3 separate regions of the Homo sapiens genome follow, and regions 1 and 3 are each linked to region 2. Evidence: fine-mapped expression QTL. A gene starts in region 2. Each other region holds a variant in brackets. All regions are shown on one strand. Distances are between the middles of the regions.

The links.
Region 1: its variant is fine-mapped to the expression of UTF1 in whole blood (TOPMed, PIP 0.96).
Region 3: its variant is fine-mapped to the expression of UTF1 in blood mononuclear cells (TOPMed, PIP 0.92).

What each region holds. Positions count from the first base shown.
Region 1 is chr10:133,250,445-133,258,449 of GRCh38, forward strand. No RefSeq gene overlaps it. Among named protein-coding and RNA genes, the nearest start is that of MIR202HG, 6.6 kb to the left of the region's middle. RefSeq lists an enhancer at 7,594-7,893. The variant A/G (reference allele first, on the strand shown) is at 3,107.
Region 2 is chr10:133,226,530-133,234,534 of GRCh38, forward strand. It overlaps UTF1 (undifferentiated embryonic cell transcription factor 1), which reads left to right and starts at 3,688. Exons shown (of 2, transcript NM_003577.3): 1 at 3,688-4,309; 2 at 4,438-5,029. The coding sequence starts at 3,760. The coding sequence ends at 4,913. RefSeq lists enhancers at 3,670-4,469, 5,270-6,069.
Region 3 is chr10:133,192,217-133,200,221 of GRCh38, forward strand. KNDC1 (kinase non-catalytic C-lobe domain containing 1) reads left to right here. Exons shown (of 30, transcript NM_152643.8): 10 at 3,447-3,605; 11 at 4,842-4,919; 12 at 5,459-5,552; 13 at 6,121-6,283; 14 at 6,362-7,050; 15 at 7,242-7,386. LOC105378574 (a long non-coding RNA gene) reads right to left here and starts at 4,120. Exons shown (of 2, transcript XR_946511.3): 1 at 2,925-4,120; 2 at 2,271-2,785. It overlaps LOC105378573 (a long non-coding RNA gene), which reads right to left. Exons shown (of 5, transcript XR_007062351.1): 5 at 4,980-5,058. RefSeq lists an enhancer at 7,387-8,005. The variant T/C (reference allele first, on the strand shown) is at 4,478.

The DNA.
Region 1 (8,005 bases), 24 kb after region 2:
CAGAGAGAGAGACAGACACAGAGAGACAAAGAGAGAGAGACACGGACAGAGATAGAGAGACACAGTGGGGAGACAGAGACCGAGAGACAAAGACACAGAGACAAAGAGACAAACAAAGAGACAGAGACAGTGGGGAGACAGAGAGTAGGGAGATAGAGACAGAGACACAGAGACAGTGGGGAGACAGAGAGGCAGAGACAGAGAGACACATACAGAGAGAAAGAGCAGGGAGACAGACAGACACACACAGAGAGACACATACAGAGAGACAGAGACAGCGGGGAAGCAGGGAGACAGAGACAGAGAGACACACACAGAGAGACAGAGACAGCAGGGAGGCTCTGGGCTATTCTAGGGCATCGCCCAGTCCCTCACTTGGTTTCCCTAACTTTTTTCTGGATTATAAACCCACACCTGCTGATCAGGAAGACTTTCATCATCCACACGGGTTTAAAGGGGCTTCCAGGGACCGGAGGGTCGGGCTGCGCACAGGTGTGGGGACGGCCACCCTCTGCTGCCTCTGCAGGTGGAGGAGCCCAGGGCCCGTCTTCCTGCTGGCCCCATCGGCTGGAGCCTGGGAGCTGGGGTGACAACTGGGTGGGGGCCCAGACCCCCCTCTGTTTCCCCCTAGGCCTCAAGGAGCCACAGAAGGCTGTGGGCCAGGCAGTGGGCAGAGGGTGGCCGTCCTCACACCTGTGCGCAGCCCGACCCTCCGGTCCCTGGAAGCCCCTTTAAACCCGTGTGGATGATGAAAGTCTTCCTGATCAGCAGGTGTGGGTTTATAATCCAGAAAAAAGTTAGGGAAACCAAGTGAGGGACTGGGCGATGCCCTAGAATAGCCCAGAGCCTCCCTGCTGTCTCTGTCTCTCTGTGTGTGTCTCTCTGTCTCTGTCTCCCTGCTTCCCCGCTGTCTCTGTCTCTCTGTCTTGTGCTGTCTTGGGCTCGGGCTGCCGGGTGGAACTGGTCAGAGGGGCGGCAGCCGAGGGACCAGGTGTCAGTGTCGCCTGGCCATCCTGGCTACGAGCCCTGGAGGTCCTGAGACCCCTCAGGGGATTCTGTGAGGTGACGGGAGGGACTCAGAGCAAACCCCAGCCCCTGAGGGCCGAGGGACCACCCGCAGGTGGACCCCAGGCTTCCCGACAGGCACACCCCACACACCTGCCCCCGTCCCGAGCTCCCTGTGGCTCCCCAGTGCTTTGAATGAAACCCAGCCTGTGAGCAGGAGGACAGGGACCCACCTCACCCACTGGAGGCCGCACAGCCTGGCTCCCACCCATCCTGGGGACCTCCTGCCGGAGATTTGCAGAGTAGGGGTGGAAGGGCCTGAAAGCAGAGGAGCCCCACCCGGGCATCCTTCCCACCATCCCGGGGCCTCCTGCTGCACCGCCAACCCCGAGAAGGCCTCAGCAGTCCAGCCAGCACCAGCCGGGGACTGTGTCCTGGTCCTTCCCCCATCAGCAGGGGTCAGGATGACCACCTGGGCAGGGGCCCTGCTGTGGGTCCAGACACTCCCTGGGTGCCTCAGACCCCAATAGCAGCCCCTCCACACCAAACACACCGGCCACCCTCCCTCCCTCCACCAGAAACAGAAAGGATCTCTGTGGGTCTGGCAGACGTGCTTGGCACGGAGCTGGCGGTGATAACGGGTGGCCTTCAGGCGGCTCCACTCCCTCCATTCCATTCCTTGTGGGGCCCGGTGGAGGCGGGTGGCGGGGGTGTCCCTGCAGCTGTCTCTGGCCAAAGGCAGCCCACTGTTAACCCTTGGTGGACTCTCCCTGCTGAAGTTCCCAAAGAGGGTGGCCTGCTCCTCCTGCATCGCATGTGGAGACCTCAGTCTACACTGGCCACACCCTGAGGCTGGGCCCAACCCTGCCCAGCAGCCCGTCCTGCCCCACACCTCATCTTGCCCTATCCCACCCTGCACCCCACCGTGCCCCGCTCTGCACCCCGGCCCGCCCTGCACCCCATCCCTCCCTGCACCCCAGCCCGCCCTGCACCCCGCCCCACCCTGCACCCCAGCCCACCCTGCACCCCGGCCCGCCCTGCACCCTATCCCTCCCTGCACCCCAGCTCTCCCTGCACCCCGTCCTGCCCTGCACCCCGTCCTGCCCTGTACCCCATCCCTCTCTGCACCCTGTCCTGCCCTGCACCCTGTCCCACTCTGCTCCTGACCCTGCCCTGCAGCCCCCACCCCATAGGTCCAGTGTCCCGGGAGTCAGCACTTCCCTCAGGTTATGTGCTGGTCCCACCGACCCCTGAGTTGCAGGCCGGGCGATGTCAATGGCTACCCCAGAGAAGCAGCCGAGGCCTAGAGCAAAGCTGACCGCTCCTGGACTCAGTTTCCCCACCTGTCAAAGGAGGTGCTGGAAATAGAGTTCCCTCGGAGATGGACAGAGTCTTACAAATGAAACCTGTGTCCACCGTGTGACCTGGCAATTCCACTCCTAAGCATTTACAAAGAGGAATGAAATCATCCGTCCCCAGAAAGACTTCAATAAGAACATTCTGGGACGGGTGCGGTGGGTGGCTCACGCCTGTAATCCCAACACTTTGGGAGCCTGAGGCAGGAGGATTGATTGAGCCCAGGAGTTTGAGACCAGCCTGGGAAACATGGTGAGACCTTGTCTCTACAAAAAATTAAAAAATAAACTAGTTGTGTGTGGTGGATGCACCTGTGGTCCCAACTATGCGAGACTCTGAGGCGGGAGGATCATCTGACCCAGGAGTTCGAGGCTGCAGTGAGCTGTGATGGTCCAAGGCACTCCAGCCTGGGTGACAGAGCGAGGCCCTGTCTCAAAAAAAAAAAAAGAAGGCTGGGCATGGTGGCTCACGCCTGTAATCCCAGCACTTTGGGAGTCTGAGGCAGGCAGATCACCTGAGGTCGGGAGTTCGAGACCAGCCTGACAGCCTGACCAACATGGAGAAACCCCGTCTCTACTAAAAATACAAAATTAGCCAGGCGTGGTAGTGGGCACCTGTAATCCCAGCTACTCGGGAGGCTGGGGCAGGAGAATCGCTTGAAACCGGGAGACAGAGGTTGCGGTGAGCCGGGATTGCGCCATTGCACTCCAGTCTGGGTAACAAGAGTGAAACTCCATATAAAAAA[A/G]AAAAGAAGAAGAAGAGAAGGAGAAGGAGAAGGAGAAGGTCTTCAAACAGGAACCACTCCAAGTCCCCAAGTCTCCTTCATCCACACAGAAATGGATAAAAAATCATGATGACTGTACAAGAAAGAAGCAGACACACAGGGTCTCGGGCCTCCCCAGAGCAGGCCAAACCACGTGGGGTGACAGGGCCCCCCCGGTAGAATGTTCCGTGGCCTGAGGATGAGGTAGTTACGCACTGGACGCATTTGCCAGAGCCCTGGGCTTGTGCACTTGAGACTGTTTATTCCGCAAAAAATAAATAAAATAGAAATAAAACTTGGGGCTGTGCGGCGGAGCCGTGGGGGTGCCCGCTCTGCGGTGGTCGGCTGACCCTGGGATGCCCTGGTCAGAATAACACGGGGCCCAGGGTCAGATGTGCGTCTCGGAAGAACACGGACCATTTCTTAGGATAAATATGTCCCATGAAATATTTAGGATGCATTCACACTGTAAGTTTTCATTGTTTCACTGAAATTTGAATTAATTGTGTGTCCTGAATTTTTACTTGCTACGTCTGGTGGCCCCACACCGAGTTTATGGAGAGGGCATGAGCTTGGAGCAGTGACCAGGACCCAGGTCGGTTCGTCTGTCTTCAGGGGGCTCCCGGGATCCAGGTCAGACTGAGGACCTGAGGCGTGCTGGGGCTGCCCCAGATCATGTGTGGAGGGCAGTGCAGCTGAGTGACCGGGCCCTGAGGCTCCTGAGGCTCTGGGACCCCATGGGATGTCCCCTTGGGAGCCAGGCCCTGGAATCTGTGCTCCAGGCCGGCTGTAGGGGAGATGGAGGGCTGGGCCTGTGCCCAGAGGCTGATCACCGCCTGGCTCCTGGCAGGGTCTGGGATGGTCTCAAGGGGCTGGTGGGCCAGGGGCTCAGCTGAGCCACCATAGGCAGCCCCCAGCCCCGGAGGGAGAGGGAAGCAAAGAGTTAATCCCCGGCCCTGGGAGAGCCCTGCCCTAAGCTCAGGGCTGGCGTTTCAAGGCTGCGTGTCTGTGACTCCCTCAGAGGAGATAATCACGGCTTCTTGATATTTTCTTTCTCTTCTCCTGTGCACACCCACATATCAGGAGCACTCGCTGGGCCATGAGAACTTTCCTCTGCCCTCCAAGGCCACGGCGGGCGGAAGGGGCCAAAGCCATTTTGTCCAGGAGCCTTTGTCCCCTGGGATTGCCTGGCCAGGAGCTGGGGCCACCGGGCTGGACCCCGTGTCTCATGTGCACACGTGCCACCCAACACACACACCACACATGTACACACTACACATATATATACACACCCCACACACCACACACCTACACACCACACACATACACACCACAAATACACACCCCACACACCACACATGTGCACACCACATATATATACACATCCCACCTGTACACACCACACATGTACACACCACATATATACATACCCCACACACCACACCACATGTAGACACACACCACACACATATACACGTCACATGATGTGTTTAGTACTACACACACACACCCCACACTCATACAAAGCACACTACATGCACACACACACACTTGCAGAGCCTACCCCTTTCTCCACCACCTGGGTCTGGACCCCACACTCGGCCCAGGTCCCAGTCCCAGGTCTCAAGCCCTTGTGTGGTCACTGCCGTCCGCTGCCAGGGGCTGGGGGTCTTTCTCACTGAGGACAGGGCTGAGCTCCCCCAGGCTGAGGAGGGCTCTGCCACCTCCAACCCCCGCTGAGCGGCTGCAGTCCCTGCTCAGTCTCCTTGGGTCCTTGGTGCCCCGAGCCGATGCCGGGGCTGACCCTCAGCAGCCCCAGTTAGGCTGGCCTCAGTTGGGTCTCTGCGTGTTCCTCTGGGAGCCACAAAAAGGCAGGTGAACTCGGCTCCACACTCCGCACCCAGGTCCAGCTGCCGGCACCGCTTGGTGGCCACCCAGGGCGAGGGTGGGATTACCCAGGATGCACAGCCCCTCTGCCCCGCGGTCCCGCCGCCCACCCTCCTTGACACCCCGCCACCCCTGCTTGGGCAGCCACGGGGAGCTGTTGGAGGGTGGAGTTCAGCACAGAAGGAGACAAAGACCTCCAGGGACAGATGGGGTGGGGGCCACCCTGCCAGGGCACTCTGGCCTCTGGACACCCCCATCAACCCTCCCCGGTCACATGGCTCTGTTTTTCCTGGCGAGGGCGTCGCGTGGATGGTGGGTGAGGCCCACATGCTGGGGGTCAGCGGTGCACACGATTCAGCCACGTCCACAGCTTTTCTTTATTTCAGGGTCTCACTCTGTGGCCCAGGCTGGAGTACAGGGGTGCAATCTCGACTCACTGCAGCCTCCACCTCCCAGGCCCAAGCGATCCTCCCACCTCAGCCTCCCAAGTAGAGGGGACTACGGGCACCATGCCGGGCCAAGTTTTGTATTTTTTGTAGAGACGGGATTTGGCTGTGTTGCCCAGGCTGGTCGTGAACTCCTGAGCTCAGGTGATCCGCCCACCTCGGCCTCTCAAAGTGCTGGGTTTACAGGCATGAGCCACCGCACCTGGCCTTCAGTGGCTCTCTGAGGAAGTTATATATATTTGTTAAACATACGTGTCCTTCTCAGAATCTGTGAGAAGCGCAGATACAATTGTCAACAGATTCCAGAAACACGGGGAGCAGCAGAGCTTTGCCGCCGCCTCTCTCCAGCAAGCTTTGAACAGCCATTGTTTTCATTTATTCCTGCTTGTAAAACGACACATTGTTATGATGGAGAATTGTGAGTACTGCAGAAAAGAAATAAGTTTTGCCACCAAAGGCGATCACTGTGGATCATGCCGGTTCCTGCACACCTGTGGGGTGCTCTGAGCGTGGACTCCCCACGCGAGCCGTCCAGACGTGCTCAGGGTGGCCTCCCCTGCTTACTCCTTTGTGCTTTCATTGCTAATAATTTTAGTCAGTCGTGTCTGCTCTACTAATTTACTATTTGAAGTTATTTACAGCTTGATCTAAAGAAGCTGGCCAGGCGCAGTGGCTCACACCTGTAATCCCAGCACTGTGGGAAGCAGAGGCAGGAGGATCACTTGAGCCCAGGAGTTCAAGACCAGCCTGGGCAACACAGTGAGACCCCCATTGCTACAAAAAATGAAAAGAATTACGCAAGGCGCAGTGGCTGACGCCTGTAATCCCAACAGTTTGGGAGGTAGAGGCGGGCGGATCACCTGAGGTCAGGAGTTTGAGAGCAGCCTGGCCAATATGGTGAAACCCCGTCTCTACTAAAATACAAAAATTAGCCGGGCGTGGTGGCGGGCGCCTGTAATCTCAGCTACTTGGGAGGCTGAGGCAGGAGAATCGTTTCAACCCAGGAGGTGGAGGTTGCAGTGAGCTGAGATTGTGCCACTACACTCTAGTCTGGGCAACAGAGTGAGACCCCTGTCTCAAAAAAAAAAAAAAAAAAAAAGGAAAAGAAAAGAATTAGCTGGGCGTGGTGGCACGTGCCGGAGGCTGAGGTGGGAGAACGGCTCCAGCTGCAGTGAGCTGTTCTCCGGCCTGGGCAGCAGAGCCAGATCTGTCTCAAAAATAAAAAACAAAAAACAGAAGCTTTAAGAGATTTTTAAATTCATTTTTACTTTTTTTCTCCTTCATCTACCCAAGATTGTACTCCGTGAGGGGGTTTTTGAAGTAAATTTCATGACAGCACATTATTCAGCAGTGAGTTTCGGACCATATGTTCCCATTTTTACAACTTTTGTGCACCCTAGGGTGTTTTCCCCTAGGAAATTGTTGTTATATTTCACACATGCAAAAATAAACGCCAGGTGATGTGAGGGGCACCCACACCCACCTTCCCGCTGAGAAATGCAGGCCGCCCCCAAGGGGAGCCCTCATCCTGCAGGTTTCCTCCCGAGTCCTGGAATTCTAAAATGCGCTCCTTGCACCTGGGACTCTTCCTGCCAGCTCCACTGGGGAAAGCTCCTCTCCACCTCCCCTGCTCCCTCCGGGCCTCTCACGGCTCCCCCCGCCCCTCCTCTGCCCCAGGGCCTGTGCTCCTACATCCCGGCAAGCCGCAGCCCCGACACTTCCTCCTAATTTCCTGACACTCCCCACTCCCTGGCGGGACGTTTTACTCCTTGCTCTCCTTCCCACTGGAGGGCGCGCGCTTTCTAGCTGGCCGCGTGGGCAGGCAGAGGACCAGGTGCAGGCGGGCGCCAGAGGACAGAAGGTGGAAGTCAAGCGGTGTCTTGGCCGTCCAAGGTCCCAGCACAGGCACTCAGAACCCCTGAGCCCAGGGAGCTCCCAAGGGTCTCACTCTCCTCTGCGGTCTTTGCTGGCCGAGGGCAAGGCCGGGTGAGGACGGAGAGAAGCAGCTCCTCCCCACCACACACCCAGAGCTGGGAGGGGCCAGGATTCAGCACCCTCTAGGGGTGGGCACGGCAGACGCGGTGGGGACCTGGCGCTGAGGTCCTGGCTCCCACTCCAGCGTGGCCTGGTGGCTTCTCCCCGGTTGGGGTACCCTGCACAGGGGTTGTGGTGCCTCCCAAGGGCCAGCCCCGCCCTGACAACCTCTCCTCCAGCCAGGATGGGGTCCATACTCCATCGAGAGGGTTCCTGGCTTCAACACCCTCCACCAGCCTCATGCCACCAGGGCCCTGGTCATCCTGGGGACCCTGCAGAGGGCCTCCTGGGCCTGTCTTCCGGCGGGTGAGCCGGCCCTGCCTGTGGGTGTCTGGGGTGTGGCCTCCAGGCACCAAGCACCCGCTGGCTCCTGATACCTGCCTTTCTGGCTGTGGTGTGTCTCTGGCCTGGCGCCTGTTTCTGAGTCCCTGGAGAGAGCAGGTTCCTCGCAGGTGGCAGGCAGCCCTGTTTGTGTGTGCATGAGCCTGTGGGGGCACCTGGAGCTGAGCGGTGG
Region 2 (8,005 bases):
GTGCTCAACCCAGGACTGAAAACGAATCTGCCGGTCCACAGCGACGCCCTCTGATGCCGCAGAGAAAGGCCCGGGCCTGCCAGACGTGTGTCACAACTCAGGCCCCGCCAGGAGGAAAGCTACCGCCAGCACTCCCAGGCCGTGGGAACAAGCAAACGCACCGGCTGGGGCAGGAAACACTTGCTTCTGGTTGTGACTGCAAACAGCCTAAAAGAACGGACTCCCGTAACCACGCTCCTGTGTGCGCACATCCAGGCTCGCCCTCCATTGACAAAAAGGACGTCCCTCATGCTGGATGTGCAGTGTCTTCATCCAAGATCAGGACGGGCGTCTGTCCATCAGTTCTTACAGGCTATTTGCACAGACCCACGGCTGTTCTTGGGTCAATCTGCGCTAAACTCTGCCCAACCCAGCCAGTTCCCACCTGGCAGCCCTGTGGGCAAGACAGAGCTGGGTCCCCCGTCATCACGGTGCAAGCTCGCCGTAACTCTGACCACAGTGGAGCAGGAGGCCAGGACGGGGAGCTCCTGCAGGTGGGGCTTGTGGCCCGGGAAAGGACACTCTCACGGTTGTCACAGGGTAAGACTGGTGGACACCACTCAGGGAGGGGCTCACAGCCAGGGCTTCCAATGGTTTTGGGGTTGTAAACTGTGGATGCTTTTGGGAAAAGAGCTGATGGGTCTTTCGGGAAGTTCCCGTGATGAACGGTGCGGTTATCCGCCTGGAGGGAGGCCCAGGAGAAGCCGAGAAGACAAGATGGTGGAGTCCAATTGTGCTGGACAGGAGCTGCCCGAGACAGGGGGCCCTGGTCCTGGTCATGTGTGCGTCCTCGCCCCCACGCCATGCAGGCCGGACCCCTCACTGCAGTGGCTCCAATAAATTCAGCTCCGCTGAGCACAGGACTTTTCTCTTAGAGAGCTGACAGCCAGCAACCTCATGAGCCTCGCTTCTCGGCGCCATCCACTCCCCGGCTCTGTCCCCCACGCCGCCATCCACTCCCCGGCTCTGTCCCCCACGCCGCCATCCACTCCCCGGCTCTGTCCCCCACGCCGCCATCCACTCCCCGGCTCTGTCCCAGACGGGTTCAAGGCAGGCTGTGCTGTGCACTGCAGTGCCACTGTGGGCTAGACAGTCTGCGCTGGCGTCCTGTGCACCATCATCTCTGATCTCCACCCATCAGATGCCCCCAGCACCCCCAACCCTCAGTTATTAAAAATCTTTTTTTTTTTTTTGAGACAGAGTCTCACTCCGTCACCTAGGCTGGAATGCAGTGGTGCGATCTTGGCTCACTGCAACCTCCACCTCTTGGGTTCAAGCGATTCTCCTGCCTCAGCCTCCTGAGTAGCTGGGACTACAGACACATGCCACGACACCCAGCTAATTTTTTGTATTTTTAGTAGAGACGGGTTTCACTGTGTTAGCCAGGATGGTCTCAATCTCCTGACCTCGTGATCCGCCCGCCTCGGCCCCCCAAAGTGCTGGGTGTCAACAGGCTTGAGCCACGCGCCCAGCCTTTTTTTTTTTTTTAGATCCACCTCCCAGGTTCAAGCAATTCTCCTGCCTCAGCCTCCCTAGAAGCTGGGATTACAGGTGCACATCCAACGCCTCGCTAATTTTTGTATTTTTAGTAGAGATGGGGTTTCACCATGTTGGCCAGGCTGGTCTCAGACTCCTGACCTCAGGTGATCCGCCTGCCTCAGCCTCCCAAAGTGCTGGGATTACAGCCACCACGCCTGCACGCCCCCCTTTTCTTTTTAAGACAGAGTCTTGCCCTGTCACCCAGGCAGGAGTGCAGTCAGGTCATCACGGTACACTGCAGGCTTAACCTCCTGAGCAAAAGGACATCCTCCCGCCTCAGCCTCCCAAGTAGCTGGAACTACAGGCACCTGCTACTACACTCGGCTATTTTTTATTTTTTTGCAGAGATGGGGGTCTCACTATATTGCCCAGGTCAGTCTCAAACTCCTGGCCTCAGGAGATCTGCCCACCTCAGCCTCCCAAAGTGCTAGGAATACAGGTGTGAGCCCCGTGTATGAGTGCCTGGCCAGGAACCACAGATTTCTTGAGAAGTGTCTGAAAAGCTGATTCTAGGACCAGGGTCGGCAAAGGACCAGATGAGGCAGGAGCATCCTGTATTGCCAGGGAGCTGGGAGGGGGTTTCAAAAGGACAAGGAAGAGAGGAGGAGGTGAGAAGACTTTCAATGGCCAAAGCAGGAACGATATGCGCAAAAATACAAATAAAAGCCCGGCACAGGGGCTCACTCCTGTAATCTCAGCACATTGGGAGGCCCAGGCAGGAGGATCACTTGAGCCCAGGAGTTCAAGACGAGCCTAGGCAACATAGCAAGACCCTGTCCCTACAAAAAGTAAAAAAAAAAAAAAAAAACTAGGTGCGTGTGGTGGTGCACACATGTAGTCCCAGCTACCAAGGAAGCTGAGGCTGGAGGATCACTTGGGCCCAAGAGTTCAAGGCTACAGTGAGCTGTGATCAGGCCACTGCACTCCAGCCTGAGTGACAGAAAGAGACCCCATTTGTAAAAAATAATAAAAACAAACAGAACTTTTAAAACAAATAAATAATAACAGCATCGGGTTATGACCTAAAGGATAAAATAAATATACACGAGCCCACACTGTAGAAATAAATGACTGAGTAAATAAATCAACAGGCAGAGAGACAAACCTTACAGAAGAATCCCAGAAAATACAGACACCCCTCCAGGAGGTGGGGCCTAATTACTCTCCCCATGAGTTGGGGATGGGCTGAGGGGCCGGATTCCAGTGACCAGAGCAGGGATGGAAAGGCGATACCTGAAGACTGCAAGAGTGGCAGACAGTCCGCACCCCAGCACGGAGCAGACCTCACCGGTGCTGAGCCACAAGACAGGAGGGGCGAGACTCCACCCCTGCGCCTTCCTTCCTAAAACCCACCACCCTAGTCGGATCACAGGAAGACACCAGGCAAACCCAAGTCGAGGAACATTCAACAAAACACCTGGCCCGTCCTCAACCGTGTCGAGGACGCGAGAAGCTGCCACGGCCCAGAGGAGACCCAGGAGACAGAAGGACTCGGCGCCGTGCGGCAAGGAGGAAGAGCATTTAATAGGAAGAGAATTTCCTCCTCCCAGGGATGCTGGCTGCAGACGCGCTGCAGATGGAAGAAGTTCAGATTTTAAAAGCTACTTCTGCGAGCGCGTGAATTCCGACACCCATTCCCGCGGCTGGCGTGGCTTCTCCTCGGACCCATCCCCTGGCCTGGCGACTCCCCCTGGGACCCGGGTCGGTCCTCCGGACCCCTCGCGTGCAGGTGCTGAGCCCGGGCGGGGGCGGCGGGGGCGGGGGCAGCACTGGGGGCCGGACAAGGGGGCGCCAGCGCCTTCCGGAGCGGGAGGGGCTCCGCACACACCTCGACGGGGGCGGGGGTAGGCTCGGCACAGGCTAAAAACGAGCGGAGCCGCCGGGGCTTAGGCATCGCGGCACCTCCGTTGAACGGGTCTAAGAACAGAACTCCTGAGGACCCTCCGTTTCCAACCGAAGCCAGTCTTTGCTCTGCGTCTTCCCGGCCGCAGCGCCAGGACCGACCCCTTAGGACCCGGCGGGCGGGGCGGGGCGCGCGGGGCGGGGCGGGGATGGTGGGAGGGTCGCGTAGACCCGGCTGGGACGGAGGGACGGCGGCGCGGGATGCTCAGAACGCGTGTGGGCGGCCCGGGCGGCGTCTGGCCCTCTCCCCATCCTCGCGCGCCGCGCCCCAGCCCCGGGATGCTGCTCCGGCCCCGCAGGCCGCCCCCGCTCGCGCCCCCCGCGCCGCCCTCGCCCGCCAGCCCCGACCCCGAGCCGCGGACACCCGGAGACGCCCCGGGGACCCCGCCCCGGAGGCCCGCCTCGCCCAGCGCGCTGGGGGAACTCGGGTTGCCGGTGTCCCCGGGCTCGGCGCAGCGCACGCCCTGGAGCGCCCGGGAGACGGAGCTGCTGCTGGGGACGCTGCTGCAACCGGCCGTGTGGCGCGCGCTGCTCCTGGACCGCCGCCAGGCCCTGCCCACCTACCGCCGCGTGTCGGCCGCGCTGGCCCAGCAGCAGGTGCGCCGCACCCCCGCGCAGTGCCGCCGCCGCTACAAGTTCCTTAAAGACAAGTTTCGCGAGGCGCACGGCCAGCCGCCCGGGCCCTTCGACGAGCAGATCCGGAAGCTCATGGGGCTGCTGGGCGACAACGGGCGCAAACGGCCTCGCCGCCGCTCCCCGGGGTCCGGGCGCCCCCAGCGCGCCCGCCGCCCGGTCCCCAACGCGCACGCGCCGGCTCCCAGCGAACCAGGTAGGCGGGGGACTGGGGGGCCAGGTGGGGCCGAGGACTGCGGAGGAACCGGGGGCTGCCGAGGGCTGCGGGGGAGGGGCGGGCGCGCCCCGCGAAAATCCGCCCGACCGCCTGCTCCGCGTTCCCAGACGCCACCCCGCTGCCCACCGCCCGCGACCGCGACGCGGACCCCACCTGGACGCTCCGCTTCAGCCCGTCCCCACCGAAGTCTGCGGACGCCTCCCCCGCCCCCGGCTCCCCGCCAGCTCCCGCCCCGACCGCCCTCGCCACCTGCATCCCCGAGGACCGCGCGCCCGTCCGCGGCCCCGGGTCCCCGCCGCCACCCCCGGCCCGCGAAGACCCCGACTCGCCGCCCGGCCGCCCCGAGGACTGCGCGCCCCCTCCGGCCGCGCCCCCGTCGCTGAACACCGCCCTGCTGCAGACCCTGGGGCACCTGGGCGACATCGCGAACATCCTGGGCCCGCTGCGCGACCAGCTGCTGACCTTGAACCAGCACGTGGAGCAGCTGCGCGGCGCCTTCGACCAGACAGTGTCCCTGGCCGTGGGCTTCATTCTGGGCAGCGCGGCCGCCGAGCGAGGGGTCCTCAGGGACCCGTGCCAGTGAGTCCCGGCTGCGGCCAGTCTCCCCTCTCCAGGCCGAGGCCCCTCCGCCCTGACCCCTCCTGCTGCCTTCCCACCCCCGTTCTTGGGTATGTTCAATAAAAGGATTGTTTTCCTAGAGTCCGGGCTGTGTAGGAGTGCGGGTCTGGAGACGGGGAGGGAGTGGCGCCCTGCAGTGCTGGGGCTGCAAAGGTCAGGGCAGGGTTGCGACGCTCTCATCACAGAGAGGGGCTCCCACTCGCTCCTAAGGTGTAGACAGAGCTCCGTGGGGCGCACCCAAATGTAGGCCGAGGAGGCCAGGCTCGAGGGTGGTGGGCGTGGTGCCTGCTGCCGGGTCCTGGTCACACACTCGGTTCTCAAGGCCACACCAGACTCTCCCTGCCCCTCCCGGGGAGCCCCACTGAGTAAAACGAAGTGAACGGGTGGGCTCCGCTGGGGGTCCGGAGAGAACCTGAGGCTGACCCCACCTCTTCACTCAATGCAGGGGTAGGGGTTAGAGTGGTCGCCTCCACACTGCCCAGCAGAGAACCCCCTTTGACCCAGGAGTAGCATGGGGGGTTCCGAAGGTCCTCCCATGGCCTCGGGCAGCCTTGGACCACCCGGCTGAACTCTCCCAGGTCCTGGGAAACAAAAGGGGAAGAGAAGCCACAGAGCTCCAGGGAGGATGCTGGTTTTGTCTCCAGGGAGGTGGCTCTGGTCTGGGTGGGCCTAGGGAGGCGCTGAGCGTCTGGGGTGTGATCCTTGGGCAGAGGCTGAGGGCAGGGTCCTTGCAATTTTGAGAAAACCGAAGCAAACCTGCCCAGGAAGCATTTTCCAAGTAGCAATAGAGGGCCCCACCCTGGACCCCTGAGTCAGAAGAGGGATTGGCTGGAGCCGGAGATACAAATGTAGCCTGGAGGAGTTCCGCTAGCATAACAATGCCTGCAAATTAGTGGGCCCATCCAGAAAGACAAGTGGTTTGCCCAGGGCCATGCAGCTAAATGGGGCTGGGGGGGTCCCCGCTGGCCCAGCACCCAGCAGTCCTGAGGGGTTCCCTGTGGGTGGTATGGTTGCAGCCCCTCCTGCACATGCTTTTCTGGGTATCCAGAAGAATAGTTCCCGCTAGTGCTAAAGGCTGCTCCTGGGGAAATGAACGGCTTGCCCAGGTCTGAGGGGGAGGCCTGTGAGACCACGCCTGCAAGAACTGACTCCAAGCCTCACCTCATTTAAGAAACTGAGGCGCCGGACGCTGTGGCTCACGCCTGTAATCCTAACACTTTGGGAGGCTGAGGTGGGTGGATTGCCTGAGCTCGCTCAGGAGTTCGAGACCAGCCTGGGCAACATGGTGAAACCCCATCTCTACTAAAAATACAAAAATTAGCCGGGTGTGGTGGCGGGTGCCTGTAGTCCCAGTTACTCGGGAGGCTGAGGCAGGAGAAGTGCTGAACCCAGGAGGCGGAGGTTGCAGTGAGCCAAGATTGCGCCACTGCACACCAGCCTGGGCAACAGAGACTCTGTCTCAAAAAACAAAAAAACACTCTGAAGGCAGACGCGGTGGCTCACGCCTGTAATCCCAGGTCTTTGGGAGGCCAGAGGCGGGCAGATCACAAACGAGGTCAGGAGTTTGAGACCAGCCTAACCAACATGGTAAAACCCCATCTCTACTAAAAATGCAAAAATTAGGCATGGTGGCGTGAGCCTGTAATCCCAGCTACTCGGGAGGCTGAGGCAGGAGGAGGCAGGAGAATCGCTTGAACCTGGGAAGTGGAGGTTGTGCACTGCACTCCAGCCTGGGTGACAGAGCGAGACTCCGTCTCAAAAAAAAAAAAAAAAAATAGACACCCTAGGCCAGGCTAGGTGGCTCACGCCTATAATATCAACACTTTGGGAGGCCTGGGCGGAAAGATCACTTTGAGCTCAGGCATTCCAAACCAGCATGGGCAACATGGTGAGACCCCGTCTCACATCAGCTCCACCCTGCTGTGTTTCCTGAGAATCTTCAAGCTGCTAAAAGCCTGTTGGATGAGCCAAGCTTGCAAACATTCCCCCTCACATACACAGCCCCCAAAGGTCAGAGTCACAGGCTGAGGCCACAGTGGGGTCTGAAACAGAGCTTAGGTGCACCCTACATGACCCTGTCGCTCCAGAAGGTTACTGCTGACAGCAAGCCCAGGTCCAGACAGCCACATCCCAGCAAACACACCAGCACCCTAAGGGTGGGGGCTGTGCCGCTCTATCACTCGGGTTACTGGACACTCGGCCCTGGAGGAAGGACCCATCTCTGGGCTGGAGCAATTTAGGGGCACCAAGCAGAATTAATCTGCCTTCCTACTCAGGTAGTGGGGCAGGGGCCACGTGCTATGATCCTCCTGAGCCCGGTATCAGAATAATGAATCTGAATACATGGGCCCCGGACCTCTAATGCTTTCTAATCTGGTGCAGAGAGTGTATTTTGGCTGTTTAAATCAATCTAGGGGCCAGATGCGGTGGCTCATGCCTGTAATACCAGCACTTTGGGAGGCTGAGGCAGGAGAATTACTTGAGCTCAGGAGTTTGAGACCAGCCTGGCCAACATGATAAAATCCCATCTCTACAAAATACACAAAAATTAACTGGACATGGTGGCACGCACCTGCAGTCCCAGCTTCACTGGAGGCTCAGGCAGGAGGATCACTTGGGCCCTGGAGATCGAGGCTGCAGTGAGCTGTGATCACATGAGGCGCTCCGGCCTGGGCAACAGTGAAAGCCTGTCTCCAAAATAAGTAAGGCGCTCTGTAGGCATGGCAGGATTAGCCTCCTGTGTGCTGTTTAATGGGGCCAGTGTCTGAGCACAGTTGGTTTAGCGTTACCTTTTTTTTTTTAGATGGAGTCTGGCTCTTGTTGCCCAGGCTGGAGTGCAATGGTGCGATCTTGGCTCACCACAACCTCCGCCTCCTGGATTCAAGCGATTCTCCTGTCTCAGCCTCCCGAATAGCTGGGATTACAGGCATGTATCACCACGCCTGGCTAATTTTGTATTTTAGTAGAGACAGGGTTTCACCATGCTGGTCAGGCTGGTCTCGAACTCCCAATCTCAGGTGACCCGACCACCTTGGCCTCCCGAAGTGCTGGGATTAC
Region 3 (8,005 bases), 34 kb before region 2:
CAAAGCCAGAGGCATCACGTTACCCAACTTCAAACTATACTACAAGGCCACAGTAACCCAAACAGCATGGCACTGGTACAAAAACACATAGACCAATGGAAGAGAATAGAGAGCCCAGAAATAAGGCTGCACGCCTACAATCATCTGATCTTTGACAGAGCTGACAAAATCAAGCAATGGGGAAGGACTCATGATACCAAGAATCAGGAAGATGTCAAACTGAATGAAAACAGGCAACCAATGATACCAACCTGGAGATGACAGAAATTTTAAAAGTGACTTTAAAATTTTTAAAGCAACCATCATAAAAATGCGTCATTGGGCAATTGCAAACACGCTTGAAACAAATGAAAAAGTTTCAGCAAAGAAATACAAAGTTTCAACCAAGGAATAGAAAAGAAAAAGAAAAAGCTAATGGAAATTTTAGAGCTGATTTTTTAAAAAAACTCAATGAATGGGCTTAATAGCAGAATAGAGAGGGCAGAGGAAAGAATTGGTGAAATGGAGACAATAGAAATTACACAGTTTGGACAACAAAGAGAAAATAGACCAAAAGAACTGAACAGAGCCTGAGAAGCTTGTGGGACTATAATAAAAGATCTAATATCCATGTCATCAAAATCCTGGAAAGAGAAGAGAAGGAGGGTGGTGCATAAAAAGTACTCAAAGAAATAATGGCTGAAAACTTCCAAATTTTGGCAAGACACATAAGCCTACAGATTTCAGAAGGTGAGAAAACCCCAAACATGATCAATGCAAAGAAATCCACACCAGGACACATCATAGTCAAACCTCTGAATACTAACCCTCCCCTCTCCGAAAAAATAAAAATAAAAATAAAAAACAAAAAGAGAGAGAAACAGCAGCTTACATATATACACATATGGGGGGGGAAAACAGTTCAGATGATCAGATTTCTCATCAGTAACTGTAGAGGAAGTGCATAGCATTTTTTTAAGTTCTGAAAGAACTTTCAACCCAGAAACCTATTTCCAGCAAAAATATCCTTCAGAAATTAAGGAAACAGGCTAGGTGCAGTGGCTCAGGCCTGTAATCCCAACACTTTGGGAGGCTGAGGCAGGTGGATCACCTGAGGTCAGGAGTTTGAGACCAGCCTGGCCAAGATGACGAAACCCTGTATCTACTAAAAATACAAAAATTTGCCAGGCATGGTGGTGGGTGCCTGTAATCCCAGCTACTTGGGAGGCTGAGGCAGAAGAATCACTGGAATCTGGGAGGTGGAGGCTGCAGTGAGCCCAGATACAGCCATTGCACTCCAGCCAGGGCGACAAGAGCGAGACCCTGTCTCTTAAATAAATAAAGGAGGAAGAAGGAAGAAAGAAGGAAGGAAGAAGAACAAGAAGAAGGAAAAAGGAGAAGGAAGGAGGAAGAGAAGAAGAAAGGAAGAAGATTGACAGAGTAATGTTTAGAAACATGACCTAACCATGTACTGTCTACCAGAAACTCACTTCAAATAAAACAATATAAGTAGGTTGAAAGTTAAAAGAGTTGAAAAAGATACATTATGAAAATGATAAAAAGAAAGCAGAAGTGACTGCATTAATATCAGGTTAAGTGTACTTCAGAGCAAAGAAAATTACCAGAGATAAAGAGGGACATTCTATAACAATAAAGGGTCAGTCCGCCCAGAAGACATAGCAATCCTAAACATATATGCACCAAATAACAGAGCTGCAGAATATGTGAAGCAAAACTGATAGAATTAATAGAGACACAGATGAATCCACAATTATAGTTGGAGATGCCAGTTTCCCCTCTCTGAACACTTGATAGAACAATCAGACTGTAAACCAGTAAAAATATGAAGGAACTCAACAACACTGTCAATCAACACGGCTGGATCAACATTTAAAGGACACTCCACCCAACAACAGCAGAATCCACATTCTTCTCAGTTGCCCCACTGACTATACACCAAGCTAGACCAAATCCTGAGCCATAACGCAAACCTCAACAAATTTAAAAGAATTTAAGTCATACAAATGTGTTCTCTGACCACAGTAACAAAAATAAAAGGGAAATTTTCCAAACACTTGGAAACGAAACAACACATTCTAAATACTCTATGTGTCAAAGAGAAAATTTCAAGGAAATTTTAAAAACATATAGAACTGAGTGAAAATGAAAATGCAACATATGGCGAACCAGGATTTTTGTGCCAATGGCGATGTGCTGGCTGAGATACTGGACTATATCAGTATCAGTATTTTGCAAGCTGCTACTGTTGTGGAAACTGGGTACAAAGTACATGAGCTCTATTATTTATTAAAACTATGTACAATTATCACAAAATAAAAGGTTAATTTTTTAAAAGTGTAACAAGTGCTCAAAATGGGTGATTTCCTACTTATCTGACTCTAGTTGGCTGTTCTATGCTCGTGGGGCTGTCTGCGTCTGCTGTGCCTGGATGGGGGAGACTCTGTAAAGGGGAGCTGCCTCTTCCCAGCTCCACACTCAAGGGCACTGCATTGGTAGCCAGAAGTCAGCCACGTGGGAGTACTTACACCAGGGAAAGCAGCAAACGCTACAAATGTCTTGTTCTGTTGACTCTCTGGACTTACTGAAGTGATGGAGAACACGTGGATGATGTGATTAAACTTAAAAGTGTGTCATGTCTGTGGCCGCTCCCTTGAGAATAGCCCAAAAGGTGGAGGACATGGTCTTACGATATCAACCGCGACCATCTGATTCAGCAAAGACGTCGCTCAGAGGGGTGCCCCGAATTCCAGCATGGGTCTGTCCGGCTTCACTTCCATCTCATTTACTGAAATGAATGAAAACATCAACCAACACTCATGTCAGCAGCACTCGTGTATTGTGGTGGACTGTGGATGAACATGGGTTTCATTGATTTTTATCAATGAAAGCCTTCAGTGAGAATTGACTGGCTCTGTGGAACTTACAAAACGTGCATCAAATGGTGTGCTGTGCATCCCTTACATCAGCAACGTGCCGGATGAACTCAGTTTGCACACAGGCGGTGTGTTCGCTCGGAGAGCCAGTTGTTAGCCATGTAGCAGCACGGCACCAGTCGGGGGGCTTCCGGGAGCAGGCACCAGTCGGGGGGCTCCCGGGTCCGTGAGGTGGGGGCTATGCTGGCCAGTTCTCCTCAAACCCTCGAGCTGCTGCCTTCGTGAGGAGAGTGGAAGGTGGGAAAGTCCAGTTGAGGCTTCCAACCCTCTGGTGTTTAAAACGCGGACAGAACCATGGGGGAGAGTTCGACCTGCAGGTTCCTGGACCACGACCTGGAGGCGGATGCAGGGGTCCAGGGTGGGGCCTGATAGATGCTGAGGAGGGGTCTTGAGGAGAGCCCCTCTGTGGGGGCAGTGCCTGGGTGCCCCTCAGGGTGCCTGAGGTGGGCAGGTCTGCTGGGCACAGCAGCCCACAGCCCTGCGGTAGACACTATTCTCTCCCCACCCGCCCAGGCCTCTGTGTACTGTGTGGCCGCCGTTCTGTGGACCGCAGCCAAGTTCAGCGTCCCCCGCAACCACAAGCTGGCCCTGCCACGCAGGCTCAAGACCCTCCTCCTGGACATGGCCAGGCGCAGTGCCCCGGAGCGGCCGTCCGCGGCTGAGGCCATCAAGGTAACCACACCACAGTCATGGCCCCAGCCCAGGGTCCAAGGACTGTGGGCAGTGGCCGCCCTCGCTGAGCTGGGGGTGGAGGAGCACGGGCTGCCAGTGTCCAGGTGATGAGGCCACCAGGTCTGTTTCTAGGTCCCTGTTTCTAGACGTCGGCCTGGCCGTCGCATGGGGAAGGGAGTGGGTTTCGCGTCATGGCCACGTCCATGTGGGTGGACAGCATGGGGGTCTCTGCTGCTCCCCACCATGGCCGTTCCTCCTGCGGAGCCCGCTCTCTCCAGCTTGTCCAAGAGGCCAGGGCGGGGGCAAGGGGTGTCCTGTGGGCACGTGCAGACCCCTGCTCTTAGGCCCTGCTGGAGGGGAGCAGAGAGAGGCCTCCACACCTCACCCCCCACCCCGAACCCCCACCTCCTCTGAGGATCCCACCAGCCCCGCCCCTCCCTGCCTGGTCTCCCTGCTGGACTCAAGCTTTGGGGCTGGGTTCTAACGTACTCCTGCTGGGACCTGCACCCGCACCCGGCATGGGGACCAGCGGGTGGACCAGCAGGTGGGGCAGGAGCCAAACTCTCATGTGTCAGTGATCAGGAGGACCTCCTGGGGAGGAGCCGAGCTGGGTGTGGGTGATCAGGAGGACCTCCTGGGGAGGAGCCGTGTCTGGGGGAGCGGAGACGGCCATGGGGTTGGGGACCTGGGTCCAGCCGTCTCCGCCTCGACTGCTCTGTGGTCTTGGGCGGGTTGCTCAGACCCTGTGGGCCTCTCAGGCCTCCTCTGCTGCAGGAGGATGAGATCTAGACACGGCTGGGCGTCTGCCAAGCAGTGAAAGCAGATTTTATTCAGTAACTACTGAGAGCTGGGGAAGCTGAGCTCAGTTCCCA[T/C]GTGCACAAGGCCTGAGCTTATAAAGGGAGGACAGGAGTGGCCGGGGGCAGGGAGCGTGGGGCTCAGGCGAACGTGACCAAGGGCTGCCAGTGTCCAGGCGACGAGGCTACCAGGTCTGTGGCCAACGCTGGGTTTGGGATTCTGCCCTCCCAGGGAGCCTGGGGGACAGTGGCCGACTGTGAGCCCTTTTCAGGAAATGCTCTAAGAAAGGCTTGTCCGGGGCCTGTAGTTGGGTGTCGGTGAGAACAAACAGGAAACCCTCCTGGCAGCCCTGAGCTTTTTCAGATGGGGACCCAGTGACACGGGGACGGTGCAGCCGTGGCTGAGGCCTGTCGGGACGTGTGAACTGTCTCCTCCCTCCAGGTGTGCGGCAGCTACCTCCTCCAGCGAGGCATGGACAGCCGGAAAATCCTTGCCCACCTCAGAGCTTCCATCTGCCAGGTGGGCTAGAACAGCCAGGCCGCCGCCTCCTCCGCCGCGCTTAGCTTCCTCCCTCCTGGACGCACTTGCCCTTGCCTGGCCGCTCCCGGCAGCCCCACACCCCGGTCTCTGTTGACCACCGAGCTGTGGGTGGGTGCATCTGGGGGTGCAGGGGGACACTCGAGTCCCATCTAAAGGCCCCACAGTGGCCCCCAGGGACCCAGATCAGGATCAGGGCAGGGTCCCAAGGACGGCGGCCCAGCACCCACCCCGGGCGCAGAGAGCTTTGGGAGTGTGGGCCCTGAGTCTCGGGTGGTGCTGGCGTCTCCCACTCCCTGGAACCCACGGAAACCTGGTTGGCTTGGGAGGCAAAGGAGCCCCAACGGCTCCCTCTCCAGGCAGAGCCGCTGCAGAGCTTGGGCCGTGTGGCCGCCATGCCCGGCTCCTCCCCAGCAGGAAGCTCCACGGCACCGGCGGGTGGTGGGGGACGCCCTGTGGGTGTTGCCGGCGCTGGCGGAGCTCCGTGGTCACCTGGCCCAGGGCTGTCACCTCCTCCCCAGGTGTACCAGGAGGAAGAGACCATCAGCCTCCAAAACGCCTTCTCAGTGGTTGAACTGAAGCCCAGTGTGGCACCAGCCCCAGAGCCCAGCCCAGGTGGGGACCTGACCAGCCCCTGCTGCCCCACCAGCTCCTGCACCTGACACCACAGCTGCCCCCACCTCTGCATGGACAGACACAGCCGGGCACCTCTCGGAAACCCGGGAAGCAAGTCCAGAGCTCGGCCAACGTGGCCCATGCAGCCCAGCCTGCCTGCCCCTGCCAGCCCCCATCTCCCAAAACTCCCAGTCGCTCAGGCCCCAGCTCCAGGTTCTCACTCCCATCTCCCAGCAGCTGGCCCTCCCAAGCCCACATCTGGAGACCCCCAGAGTCCACACAGAGCCCACCCCACCCCCGTACTGAGCCCTGCTCAGCAGGCCCCTCCAAGGCTTCTGGTGGGGCCTGGTCTTGCTGGCCCGTCCCCGCCTGCTGGCCCTCCCCCAAGCACCAGTCTCACCCACCCTCCCATTCCAGGGCCCAGCACAGAGGAAGCCCCCAGGGCCATGCGGGAGGGGACGCGGCACCACGCACTGGGTGGGATGAGCACTGGGTGGGATGAGCCGGTGGTGCGGCACGTGCTGGGGCCACTCCGCCCGCCCACACCCTCAGCCCCCTGGCTCCCCAGGCTTCCTGCCGGTGAACAGCGACACCGGGCTTGTGGCTGTGCCAGGGCCCGTGCCCGGCCAGCACCCCTGCGGTGAAGAAGCCACCCAGCTGCCTGCAGCGTTCACCTCCGAGGCCACGCACTTCAAGCCCATTGTCCTCGCGCAGAACGCAAGTGTGGCCAGGTGAGCATCGTCCCCACACCCCGGAGCTGCTGGGTCCCGGGCGCAGGCAGCCCCTCCTGAGCTCTGCTCCTCCCGTAGGGACCAGCCTGCCTTGGCCCAGGAGGAGTCCGAGGAGAGGGGCGGCCAGAGGGAGGGAGAAGGTGAGGAGAAGCTCTCCCTGGAGGCCCACGCTGGGTCCCCCAGCCTGAAGACGCCTGACGGGCCGGTGCCTGGTCCGGGGCCACAGGGAGCAGCCCCAGAGCCTCTTGGGGCGTCAGTGCAGCGTGACTCAGCCCAGGGCCGCCCCTGCCCTCCACCCCAGGCCCCAGCAAACCAGCCAGAGGGGGCCTCATCGGCAGCTCCCGGCTCTCCAGTCCCCGCCCCGCCCACGAAGGCATCTGCGCTGCCCGTAGAGCAAGGGCCGGCTGAGCCGATCCCACCTGGAGTTGCTTCCGGGGGCCTCAGGCCCGACGCCCTGGGGCCCACCACGGCCCACCACGGCCCACGCCACCCGCCCAAGCCCCCACGAAGCAAGGCCACCGAGCGCCCGGGCCAGGAGCCAGAGGGCCCCGGGGCCACCCCTGCCGGGGAACGTGATGACCAGAGTCCAGACAGTGTCCCAGAGAGGCCGCGGCCCGCAGACCGGAGGCTCTGTCTGCCCTGCGTGGATGCCTCGCCACTCCCAGGGAGGACGGCCTGCCCGTCGCTGCAGGAGGCCACGCGCCTCATCCAGGAGGAATTTGCCTTCGATGGCTACCTGGACAATGGGCTGGAGGCTCTGATCATGGGTACGTGGGGGCCGCAGACGCCCCAGAGGAGGCCCGGGCCAGGGAGAGCCCCACAGGGGACTCGGGGCCGCCCCACGCCCTTCCCCCAGCCCCCCAGCCGAGATCAGCCTTGTCCGTTTCATCAGCCACAAGGGAACCAGATGAGCAGCCCTGCCACCATCTCACTTGTCTCCATCGTTTTGCAAAACCAGGGGAGTACATCTTCGCCTTGAAAGATCTCACCTTTGCCACTTTCTGTGGCGCCATTTCCGAGAAGTTCTGTGACCTGTACTGGGATGAGAAGTTGCTGCAGAACCTCTTTAAGGTGGTCAACGGGCAGGCGTCACCCTCCCCAAGGTGGGTGCCCAGTTCGGCCCTGCATTCCCGCCCCTCCCTGATGCCCACTGTGCCTGGGCTCTGCTGCCTGACCCGGGCCCAGCCTTCCCCTCCCAACCCTCCGCTTCCATCTCGCTGCTGTCTCCAGAGGGGCTACCCTTGGTGGAGATGGGTGGGGGTCCCAGCAGCCCCTCCTTGGGCCTGACGCCTACTCACAGCTTTCCCATCGGACCTGGGTTTCTTCTGGAGGACGAAAGGGCTTTCAGAGAATATGAGGCAGGGGCTCTCCGGGAGGCTGCAGGGGGCCTGGGCAGTGATGGCCACAGGGCTCCCTGCTCAGAGGGACCAGTGTGAGGGCCCCAAGGAGGTGAAGAGACTCCCAAACAGGTGGCCCCAGACCCCACAGGGCCCAGCACTGAGCTGTGTTGGGTGGGGCGGCGGCCACCCCACATTGCCTTGCTCACAGCTCCACGCGGTGCCAGCAGCCCGGGCAGCTCCTCCGCGTGCGTGTGGAGTAAACACAGCTGTGAGCAAGGGCACCCACCCCAGCCCCGGCCTCCTCGGCCCCGCAGCACTGAGAGGCTGCTCCCGAGTCCCCCCAGGGACCCCAAGCAGTGAATGACCCAGGGATCCCGTCGGC